Homo sapiens: one gene and its partners. The protein of the gene in region 3 purifies or fractionates together with the protein of the main gene of each other region. This does not show direct contact. Each region holds a gene or a part of one and is shown on either strand. Other genes may lie near its edges. The genes, in order: PRMT2, CTSC and ESPN.

Region 1 (3,129 bases), on a different chromosome or scaffold from region 3:
AAACTGTGGTCTATTCATGCAGTTGAATACTATGCCACAATGAAAAAGTCAACCACAACCACACTGTCTAAAATTCATAGATGAGTCTCACAAACAATGTTTAATTAAAGAAGGCAGACACAAAAGAACACGTGTACAACTCCATTCAGGCAAGAGTAATCGACAGTTACAAGTCAGGACATCACCCTTGAGAGGGTGGGCACTGAGTGGAAGGGGAATCGGGGAATCTGTAGTGTGTCCTGGCCTGGATGCTGGTTACATGTGCGTCCACTTTATAAAATGCCATCATCTATGTACCCATGACTAGCACTGTTTTCAATATATATTTGATATTTCAGTTTTGTTTTTTGGGGTTTTTGAGACAGGGTCTTGCTCTGTCACCCACGCTGGAGTGCAGCAGTGCAATCCTAGATCACTGCAGCCTCAACCTCCTGGGCTCAAGTGATCCCCCCGCCTCAGCCTCCCGAGTAGCTGGGACTACAGGCACACGCCACCATGCCCAGCTAATTTTTCTATTTTTTTTGTAGAGATAGTATCTCGCTGTGTTGCCCAGGGTGGTCTTGAACTCCTGAGCTCAAGGAATCATCCCACCTCAGCCTCTCAAAGTGTTGGGATTACAGAGGTAAGCCACTGCACCCAGCCTATATTTCAATAAAATTTAATAAAAATCAAAACAATACAAAAAAAAATTATGGACATGTATCTACTGATGTGGAAGTTTTTTCACAATATTGAGAAAAACTTATAAAGCAATGCATATAGTATGATCCTGTAATTACAAAAAATAACATATATGCATAAAACAGGATACACAATGACATTCACTCATTTAAAAATATTTATTGAGCATGTGCGATGGACCAACACATAATTTATTTGGAAGACGTCTACACAACTGTACTATCCCATGCAGAGTCCCATCGCATACATCACCACCTTAGCTCGCACGCTGAGCCAGGGCAGTGTTCCCTACACGCCACTGGCACAGCCCTGTGCAATCCTACGTCCCACACGAGTGGATGAGCGACGGCAGTAAGGGCACCACTAACATAGGAGGTGGGGACAGTCACTGTCACAGGGTACACGGGCTGATATGCGTGCGTCCTAGGAGTGTAGACCTAGACCTAGCTTAGGAACATGGAGCTCCGACCCAGCCACGGGTCGGCACTGTGGGCACCACGGGTGAACACCTGGAAACACAGCCTACTTCTAGAGGGCAGACACTGGGCAGCGGGGGTGGCCACGGCAGCTCCTGCCGAGCCCAAGCGTGTTTGTCTGTGAAGGACCCTGACGTCACCTGCCAGGCTAGGGAGGGGTCAATGTGGAGTGAATGTTCACCGACTTTCGCAGGAGTGTGCAGAAGCCAGGTGCAACTTGGTTTGCTTGTGTTCATCACCCCTCAAGATATGCACACTGCTTTCCAAATAAAGCATCAACTGTCATCTCCAGATGGGGAAGACTTTTTCTCCAACCTGAAAAAGATAAATGACAACAGGTCAATCAGATGATAAATCATTTGATTAACATACTACATTTCCTAATGGTTTAATATTGGACAAGAGAACAGTATTCAGGTGCAGAATTTTTTTAAATGACAAACTTTTAACAAAAACTTATCACAAAGCAAAGCACAAAACAAATATAAAAAATGAAGGAAAACCATTTATTTTTATTTTCTTTGCCACATTAATCCTGAGCCCAAAGAAGAACATTCCATTTTCAGCAGCCTCTGAGACAGGAAGCCCAAGTGAGCTGGGCGAGCTACACATGAATTCACACACGGATCCGAAGGCTGCCAGTCAGAACACGCATCACAGACGACACGCCTAGACTAACTGCTGCCTGGGAAGCCACAGAGGCCTGTGTAAAGGGAGCGCCAAGGCACAGCTCAGGCTTCTGTCCATCTGGGGGACCCTCTGGACATGGCACAAGGGGCCTCAGGCTGATGTGGGTCTCTGCTCTCCCTCACTTACCGTGTCACCTGAGGGAATGACTTCCCTGACTTCCCTTCCAGAGCCCTCCACTTCCCGTGCTGTCAGATGGGAAATGAAGCCAATGACAACAGGCGCTTTCTGTGTAAGGATTAAATCACTCCTGCACAAAAGGCGTGGACCCCAGTGTGGGCCAGCATCTGCCATCACTACCACCACCCAGGCCTGTCTCCCTGAGGACCGGCACCCACAGGACAGAATCTTACAACTACGTATCTTACTTTTTGAGATGTGGGGTCTTGTCTGGAAGTGACAGCCCAGCTCAGAGCCACAGACATGTGCCTTCTCCACACTGGGTTTCTCTGCAACACAACTGAACCCGTGACCACGTCTCCTGTATGGACAGGGACTGGGTCGTCCATCATGAACAGCGTCTGCTTCCAGTGTGTGGTGCTGCAAGACAGGGGTGCGTGTGACCTGGAGGCTGAGCTAGGGCAGTCTCCACATGGCCCTCGGGGCGCTGACTCAGGCTCGCACTGGCTCTCGCCCCCAACAGCACCCACACAGCCGGCAGTCCACCCTGAGGGCCTGGGGACACAAAGCTTGGCTTTTCAGGCTAACTCAGGGAACATATACACCCCCAGCCCTGTGATCTAAAGGGACTCTATGGGATACACTGGGATCAAAGTTACGCTAGTGAGACAGATCCTGCCAATGCCAAACACAAGCTTGCTCCTGAGACCACTCAGATTCCAGGAGGTGTGGACGGCTCACCCTGGGTGGCCCAGAGGATGCGGGAGCTCAGGGGACACACAGCTGCACTAAAGGTCCCGTGTGGTGTCGACTCCCCGGCCCGCCAGGAGGACGGCTGTGCAACCCCTTCCTGCACCCTTGCCTAAGCTGCAGAGGCTGGTGATCTAGCTCCTGCTGTTAAACTGTGGTGTACACAGACAGAATCAGGTCCAAGGAGTCGCTTCTGTGAAGGTTACAAGGTGAGGACAACTGTCACATTTGGGGGGAAATAGTAAAACGCTATGATTCTGCACTGGGTTGCGTTGGAAACATCTCTAAGTTCCTCAGGCTCTGTCTTCCCTCAAACTCCCACTGTCCACGGTGGGGCCAGCAGTGAAGTGGGGGGCTCCTCAGGTCTCCAGTTTTTCCCTGACTCTGGTCACACCCCTCACCCCAGCCTGTGCCC
Region 2 (3,653 bases), on a different chromosome or scaffold from region 3:
CAATTCTGCAGCAGACACCAGCTCAGTGCCCTCCAGTACAACTCCAATGCTACCTACCAGGAGACAGTTTCAGATCCCGTAGGTTGAGGGCTTAGTCCCCAAGACTGCCTGCCCACTTTAGACACCAGTCTCAAGTCCAGGCCTCCAGAACTTCTGATGGACTGGCTTCAAATTGGGGTTCCCATAACCCCCTCTTTGGGTTCAATTAATTTGACAGAGTGGCATAAAAACTCAGGGAAACATGTTTATGATTTATTACAAAGGATATTTGAAAGGATATAAATACACAGGCACTTGAAGAGATACATAGAGCAAGTTCTGGAAGGGTCCCAGACACAGGAGCTTCTGTCCCTGCGGAGTTAGGGTGGACCACCCTTCCAGCATGATGAGTTCTTCTTCACCTTCCTGTCAGACCCTACATGTTTAGCGCTTCAGAATTCCCTCAAATCTGTTCTTCTTGGGCTTTTATGGAGCGTTCATTGAATACACATGATTAAAGCATGGATAACCATGTTAAAATATAATTAGGTTATAAGGACATGATCTAAACCTAACAAGGCCTGTCTGTTCAGATTCTTCTTGGTGTCTCTGTGCAGTGTTCCTTCTGCTATGGTATGGGGCAGAATACTCTCTGGTATGAGGGTCTTAGAAACCATAATCAGATTAGAGTTCTGCAGTGGGCAGATGAAAGGAGGGTAGGAGAAGATCAGAGAGAGAGATTCTGGTTTCTGTAACAAGGGTCTTGGGAGTGAGTTATGAGCCAGGAACCATGGACAAAACCTATATATGTCATAACATACAAATACTCTGCATGTACCAACTACTCAACAAACTCGAGCAGCAAGAACAATAAGAAACAATCTACTTCAAGCATATCTGAAGCATATATAAAGAGGATAAAAGGAAGCAAGTTGTAGGGTTCCAGTCAGTGGAGAGGCGTGAAAATCCAATTGATTTGTAGGATAACAACAACGATGGCAGGTAAGCATGGCAAGAATTTGTCAAATATTTCTGTAATGGCAGTAGGTTGAGTATGTTTTCGTTTATGTAAGACTCTTTGAATAGCAAATACTACTCAAGTTTTGATGTTTTCTCTTTTTACAAAAATAAATTTTAATGTAAAAGATGCTTTCTAATTCTATAGGAACAATTCTCACATGCAATACTTATTACATGGGCTTGTGTTTTCCTTGAGTTACGCATCCTTTCAAGCACGGTTTCCCCAGCTGCAGGAAATACCCTGATGCTTATGGTAAAATCTGTAAACTTTCTGTATTAATAAATGTCACCCATCAACAGTGGATGACTTTATTATTCAAAGTCAACTCCATCTTAATATCTTTCTTAAGTTTTTAAACTCTGTTTCCCATCACTCTTGCAATTGGATTTACTAAAATAACATGGTATTTTATCACTTTGCAAGCTATGTTTATCTGGAACTACCTGATTATATTAAGTTTCAAAAAGAAGTATCCTATTATATTCTACTCTGCCTAAGGAAATTATGGTGCTTGTCATAAGACCTAACTACTGACCAGAGTGGTTGATTTTTCTGCAGAAAAAGAAAACATGGCCCTGATAATGGTTTTGTCAAATGGGCACTTTAAAATAGACATATCCTGAAATCAGTAGGGCAGGAGTATTTTTTCTATTGTTATTCCTAATGAAAGAATAAGGATTCGATCAATGCCATCCAGAACCATATGATTAGGCAGGGTTCTACCCTCCAACAGCATATATATTAATTCTTTCCAACTCATGGTTGGGAACACATATAACTTTATTTGGCTTTAAAAAGTGATTTTCTATTGACCTAATGTGACTAATGTTCTTAGGCAATGGCAAAACACCAAATGTGCTTACACCGTGATTCACAAAAAGTGATACAATTCCTCATTCAGCCACCAGCTAATTCCCTCTGTCCCTACCAGCTTTGGACTACTATTTAAGCTAAGAACTAACTGATGAAAAAATAATAAAAGAAGAAAACTGCTTTTGTCTATATCTATTACATCTCTGGTAATTAAATAATGATTTTAGAAGTTTCCCCACCAGTTTCTCCAATTCTGCAGAATTTAAGAATCAAAAGTTTTCTAAGTCAAAAGAATAAACTATGTACTTGTCTCTTTTTACCTATTCCTCATCTCCTAAATAATTTATTTAACCTATTTCCCAACTGAATTCCACTTCATTCATTCATTTTTTTTGTAATAAATTGACTAGGTGTCTATTGTGTGTCAAAGAAGAAGGGATAGAGACAGAGGAAAAGAAAATGACAAAAAATTATGTACAAGGTTTATGGTACATGGTAACAATTGCCTTGAATATCTCTTCCTTTGCACATGCATTCCACATGCAATTGATTCTTAATCTGAAGTCAAAGAACCTTTGAAGGGCTGTGACAGAGTAACTGTAAGAGGTCTGCAAAGGCCTAGGCTCATCAACGTATACACCAAAGATTATTTTCAGGTTAAATATACCACATATACATTACAATTTTAAAAATTTATATAGATACTATTGTAAGTATGTTTTTTACAAAAAAAATGCGTAGCATCTGGAAATGATACTAAAAATAGTTAACAACTGGTTAAGCATGGGTTTCCACTAATTCAGTGGACTGGTGGCCATCAACAGCTAGCATGGACAAACTGGTTTCCACCAGCTGCATATCACACCAGCAAATCCAGTTGAGGAAAGGCAACCTCTTCCTCTCTATTTCATCTTTTTTTTTTCCATATTAAAGAAAGGTCCTTATTTTAAAAATATTTCTGGGAGTTATTATTCTAAAAAATATTGTAAACTTGCTTGGACCGCCATAACCTTGTGACAAACCACAACTCCCATGAGAAATTATAACAAGTTTAGAACTAGGCCTTTGTTGGTGCTTTGTCTTTTATCATATTTAACAGAGTTATTCCCTACTTTCCCACTTCTTCCCAGATGTTTTAAAGGCTGTAAACCTTTCACCATGAAAAAGTCTGTCTTAATTTATACTCTATGTATAATGAGAAACGCCTAGTTTCAGGCTTATGTATCCAATTTACTTGAACCATTTAATATTTAGCTTACAAGAAAAGTTCCAGCTTGTGAAGAACAAATGAAATGGGCTGCAATTTGTGCTAAACTATTTTAACCCTGAGTATGTTTGCAATTGGAAAAAGTGTGTTATGAGAATGAACAATAGTTCTTTCCTAATGAGAGAAGGAAACAAGCTGGGTTGACTTGGCTACCTTTCACTTTAACCAGCCTAAGGGAGTAACTCCTAGGTTCTCTCTTTCTGTTAGTTTAGAAGAAAAAATTACTCAACATATTTAGTACATTTAAGATAATGAATCATTTAGGCCTATCACTACCTCAGCCAACAGGTAGTGATAGGAAGGACAGCATAGTAACTGCAAGAAAACAAAATGTGTAATCTCTCTATCTTTCCTACAGATTTAGAACAAAGCCAAATGACTATGGCAACATTTAGAAATAAAGTGGTAGTAATAAGGAAAATAAATTAAGAATTTAGTCATACTTACCAAAATGTAAATTTTAAACATAATTTATACATATTCAAATGTAGCACTGGTATTTTGTAAACCTACTAAAATCATAATTTTAAATAAAGTGGCAAAATTATACCAACTACTACTACTCTTGGGAAG
Region 3 (3,653 bases):
AAGGCAGGGCTGCGAGGCCCACCCTCTTTTCATTAGGGTCTCAGCTCTCCTCTCCTCAAAGACACCTGGCTTCCCTGACCCCTCAATTTCAAGAACCATCCCCATCGCTTCCTACCAAACTGCTCATTTCACTACACAGCACTTGTCACTCCTGAATTATCTTGTTCTCCTATTCCTCAGACCCATACACACATGGATAGAAGAATGTATGGCTGACGTGATGACGGGCCGGGCAGTTGGGTGCACCCAGTTGCTTTTTGTTGAATGAATAAATATGAGAAGGGACATCCAGGCCAGGAGTAGGGGATCTCTCTTCACTCATGGCCTCAGGCTGGTAGGGCAGGTTAGGTCCACTTGCCAGACAGGCTTGGGAATGCTCAGAGGGGAGTTTTGTCTAGGGTCACATGCAATGAGCTATAGGCAGAGTGGACAAGTCCCTGGGATTCCATACCCCACTCATTCAGCAGACGTTTACTGGAGTCAGGCTCTGGGCATACAGAGCCGGGAAGACAAAGCCCCTGGCCTCATTAGTCAGGGACAGATGGGATGAAAACACACATCTGTCTGTGTGATGAAGGGCCTGGCTGGAAATTCGGGCATGCAGGGAGTGAAGAGATGGAATGTGTCTCAGGGGTTTCTCCTAGGGGTTAGCTTTTGGTTGTCACGCAGGATGCACACAGAACGCAAAGCCAGGCAACCATAGGGCAGCTGGGAGGCCAGGTGCAGTGGCTCATGCCTGTAATCCCAGCACTTTGGGAGGCCGAGGCGGGCGGATCACCTGAGTTCAGGAGTTGGAGACCAGCCTGGCCAACATGGTGAAACCCCATTTCTACTAATAATACAAAAATTAGCCGGGTGTGGTGCCATATGCACCTATAATCCCAGCTACTCGGTAGGCTAAGGCAGGAGAATCACCTGAACCTGGGAGGTGGAGGTTGCAGTGAGCCGTGCCACTGCACTCCAGCCTGGGCGATAGAGCGAGACTCAAGTCTCAAAGAAAAAGGGCAGCAGGGAACAAGGCCAGTGGGAGAGTGAGTGGGCATCATGGGTGCGGTTGACAATTTCAGCAAGGCTCAGGGTTGGCCTTGCTGAGGTGAGGTCTGGGCAAAGACTTGGAGGAAGGCAGGGTGCAGGCGGGTATCTCTGATCCCTGCAGAGGGATCAGCCTCTGTGAAGGCAGGGGCGCTGGCCTGTTGGATGGGACCACAGCCCGGAGGAGGGATGGCCTCTGGGCCATTGTAAGGAAGTGAGCAGCCTTCCCTGTCAGTGGTCAGAAGCCTGTGATGGGACTTGTTCTTTTTTTTTTTTTTGAAATGGATTCTTGCTCTGTTGCCCAGGCTGGAATGCAGTGGCACAATCTTAGCTCACTGCAACCGCTGCCTCCTGCGTTCAAGTGATTCTCATGCCTCAGCCTCCCAAGTAGCTGGGACTACAGGCAGGAACCACCACACCCGGCTAACTTTTTTTCCTCCTGAGATGGAGTCTTGCTCTGTCGCCCAGGCTGGAGTGCAGCAGCACGATCTTAGTTCACTGCAACCTCCGCCTTCCAGGTTCAAGCAATTCTCCTGCCTCAGCCTCCTAAGTAGCTGGGATTACAGACACCCACCACCATGCCCGGCTAATTTTTGTATTTTTTAGTAGAGATGGGGTTTCACCGTATCGGCCGGGCTGGCCTCAAATTCCTGACCTCGTGATCCGCCCGCCTCAGCTTCCCAAAGTGCTGGGATTACAGGCATGAGCCACTGCACCAGACCAGGACTTGCACTGTCTTTTCTTTTCTTTTTTCTTTTTTTTTGAGATGGAGTCTCACTCTGTTGCCCAGGCTGGAGTGCAGTGGTGCGATCTTGGCTCACTGCAACCTCCGCTTCCCTGGTTCCAGCAATTCTCCTGCCTCAGCCTCCCGAGTAGCTGGGACTACAGGCACGTGCCACCACACCCAGCTAATTTCTGTATTTTTTAGTAGAGACGGGGTTTCTTCATGTTGGCCAGGCTGGTCTTGAACTCCTGACCTCGTGTTCCACCCGCCTCAGCCTCCCAAAGTGCTGGGATTACAGGTGTGAGCCACCGCACCCAGCAGGACTTGTGTTTTCAAAGGCTGCGGGTGGACATGGACGGGTGAAGGCCAGGGCCTTTCAGGCTTACTGGGGACTTCCCCTTTTCCGTTCTGTAGTGCACAGCCTCACAGAGCCTGGCTGCTCCCATGGCCCAGCTGAGCCCAAGGGGTTCAGGTAGCCCCCACGTGAGGCAGAAAGGGGGTTTCTCAGAAGCCCTAGGATGCCCCAGCAGTGTGCTGCTTACAGAGCCCCAGGGTCCAAGGCTCAGCTCTCCCCCTTAGAAGGGTAGGGCAGGGGCACTAGCCCCGGTTAGACGACAGCTGGGACCAGGAGCTGCTGGTGGAGACATGAGATGGTCTCCTGCTGTGAGGGGCTGCTCCGGACTCCACCAGGCCCTTCCTTTCCCAGAGCCTCCACGTAGGTCAGGGGGTCAAGGACAGCAGCCACCTCCTCAGTGCGGACACAGGCCCTGCCCCCACGCCCTGCTGCCAGGTGAACTGACAGACACCAAGGGTAGACCTGGAGCTGGTGATCAAAAAGGAATGAGCCCCCACGGCCTGTGGCAGAATCAGGGGCTTAGTGGGGAAAGGGACCACCCCAGGCACAGCCTCCAGCCTTCTAAGGGGGAGAGTTGAGCCCTGGGCCCTGGGGCTCTCTAAGCTGAGAGCTGCTGGTGCTTCCCAAGAAACTCCCTTTCTGTCCCAGGTGGGGGCTGCCTGAACCCCTGGGCCGTGGGAGCAGCCAGGCTCCATGAAGCCTTGCACAAAGGAAGGGAAAAGGGGAAGTCTCCGGTGGACTTGAAAGGCCCTGAGTGATTAGGACCTGGACCAGGAGTGGGAGAGAGACCCAGAGAGGAGGTACAGCCTGCTCAAGGCCACACAGCAAGCCAGTGGTGACCACAGCTGGTGAATCAGCCTCTCTAAAACACCATTTCTGTACCTGTCAGCTCCACGAGGCAGGGAAGCTTGTCTGGTTCACCAGCATATCACTGGCATTTAGAATATTGCCTGGCACATAGAAGATGCTCAATAAACATTAGTTGAATGAGTCCATCTGTAAAATGGGCTGATTACATAGCTACTGCTCGGGGTGGTTGTGTGGCTCAGATGACACTGGGTGGTGCCAGACCCCTAGAAGATACTCAGCACCAGGTTCTTTTTCTTTTCTTTCTTTTCTTTCCTTCCTTTCTTCCTTTCTTTCGTTCGTTCCTTTTTTTTTTTTTTTTTTTTTTTTTGACAGAATCTTGCTCTGTTGCTCAGGCTGGAATGCAATAGCATGATCTGGGCTCACTGCAACCTCCGCCTCCCTGGTTCAAGTGATTCTCCTGCCTCAGCCTCCCAAGTAGCTGGGATTACAGGCATGGGCCACCTGTACAGGCATAGCCCGGCCACATGCCCAGCTAATTTTTGTATTTTTGGTAGAGACGGGGTTTCACCATGTTGGTCAGGCTGGTTTTGAACTCTTGACCTCAGGTGATCCACCTGCCTCGGCCTCCCAAAGTGCTGGGATTACAGGCATGAGCCACCGTACCCAGCCCCAGGTACTTTCCAATCCCATTCCAGTCTAGTCTGGTCGGGGGTAGGGGAGGCTTTCGGGGAA

Evidence for each region.
Region 1: the proteins of ESPN (region 3) and PRMT2 purify together in Homo sapiens (affinity purification with mass spectrometry; one large-scale study listed by BioGRID and IntAct). This does not show direct contact.
Region 2: the proteins of ESPN (region 3) and CTSC purify together in Homo sapiens (affinity purification with mass spectrometry; one large-scale study listed by BioGRID and IntAct). This does not show direct contact.

The regions. Positions count from the first base shown.
Region 1 is NC_000021.9:46,662,638-46,665,766, reverse strand, and holds the end of PRMT2 (protein arginine N-methyltransferase 2), read right to left. Parts: intron 2,385-3,129; coding exon 2,213-2,384; intron 1,473-2,212; coding exon 1,440-1,472; coding exon of another isoform or gene 1,393-1,439; 3' UTR 643-1,392; downstream 1-642. UniProt on the Homo sapiens protein: Arginine methyltransferase that methylates the guanidino nitrogens of arginyl residues in proteins such as STAT3, FBL, histone H4. Acts as a coactivator (with NCOA2) of the androgen receptor (AR)-mediated transactivation.
Region 2 is NC_000011.10:88,331,163-88,334,815, forward strand, and holds part of CTSC (dipeptidyl peptidase 1 isoform a preproprotein), read right to left. Parts: intron 1-3,653. UniProt on the Homo sapiens protein: Thiol protease. Has dipeptidylpeptidase activity. Active against a broad range of dipeptide substrates composed of both polar and hydrophobic amino acids. Proline cannot occupy the P1 position and arginine cannot occupy the P2 position of the substrate.
Region 3 is NC_000001.11:6,431,264-6,434,916, reverse strand, and holds part of ESPN (espin), read right to left. Parts: intron 1-3,653. UniProt on the Homo sapiens protein: Multifunctional actin-bundling protein. Plays a major role in regulating the organization, dimension, dynamics and signaling capacities of the actin filament-rich microvilli in the mechanosensory and chemosensory cells.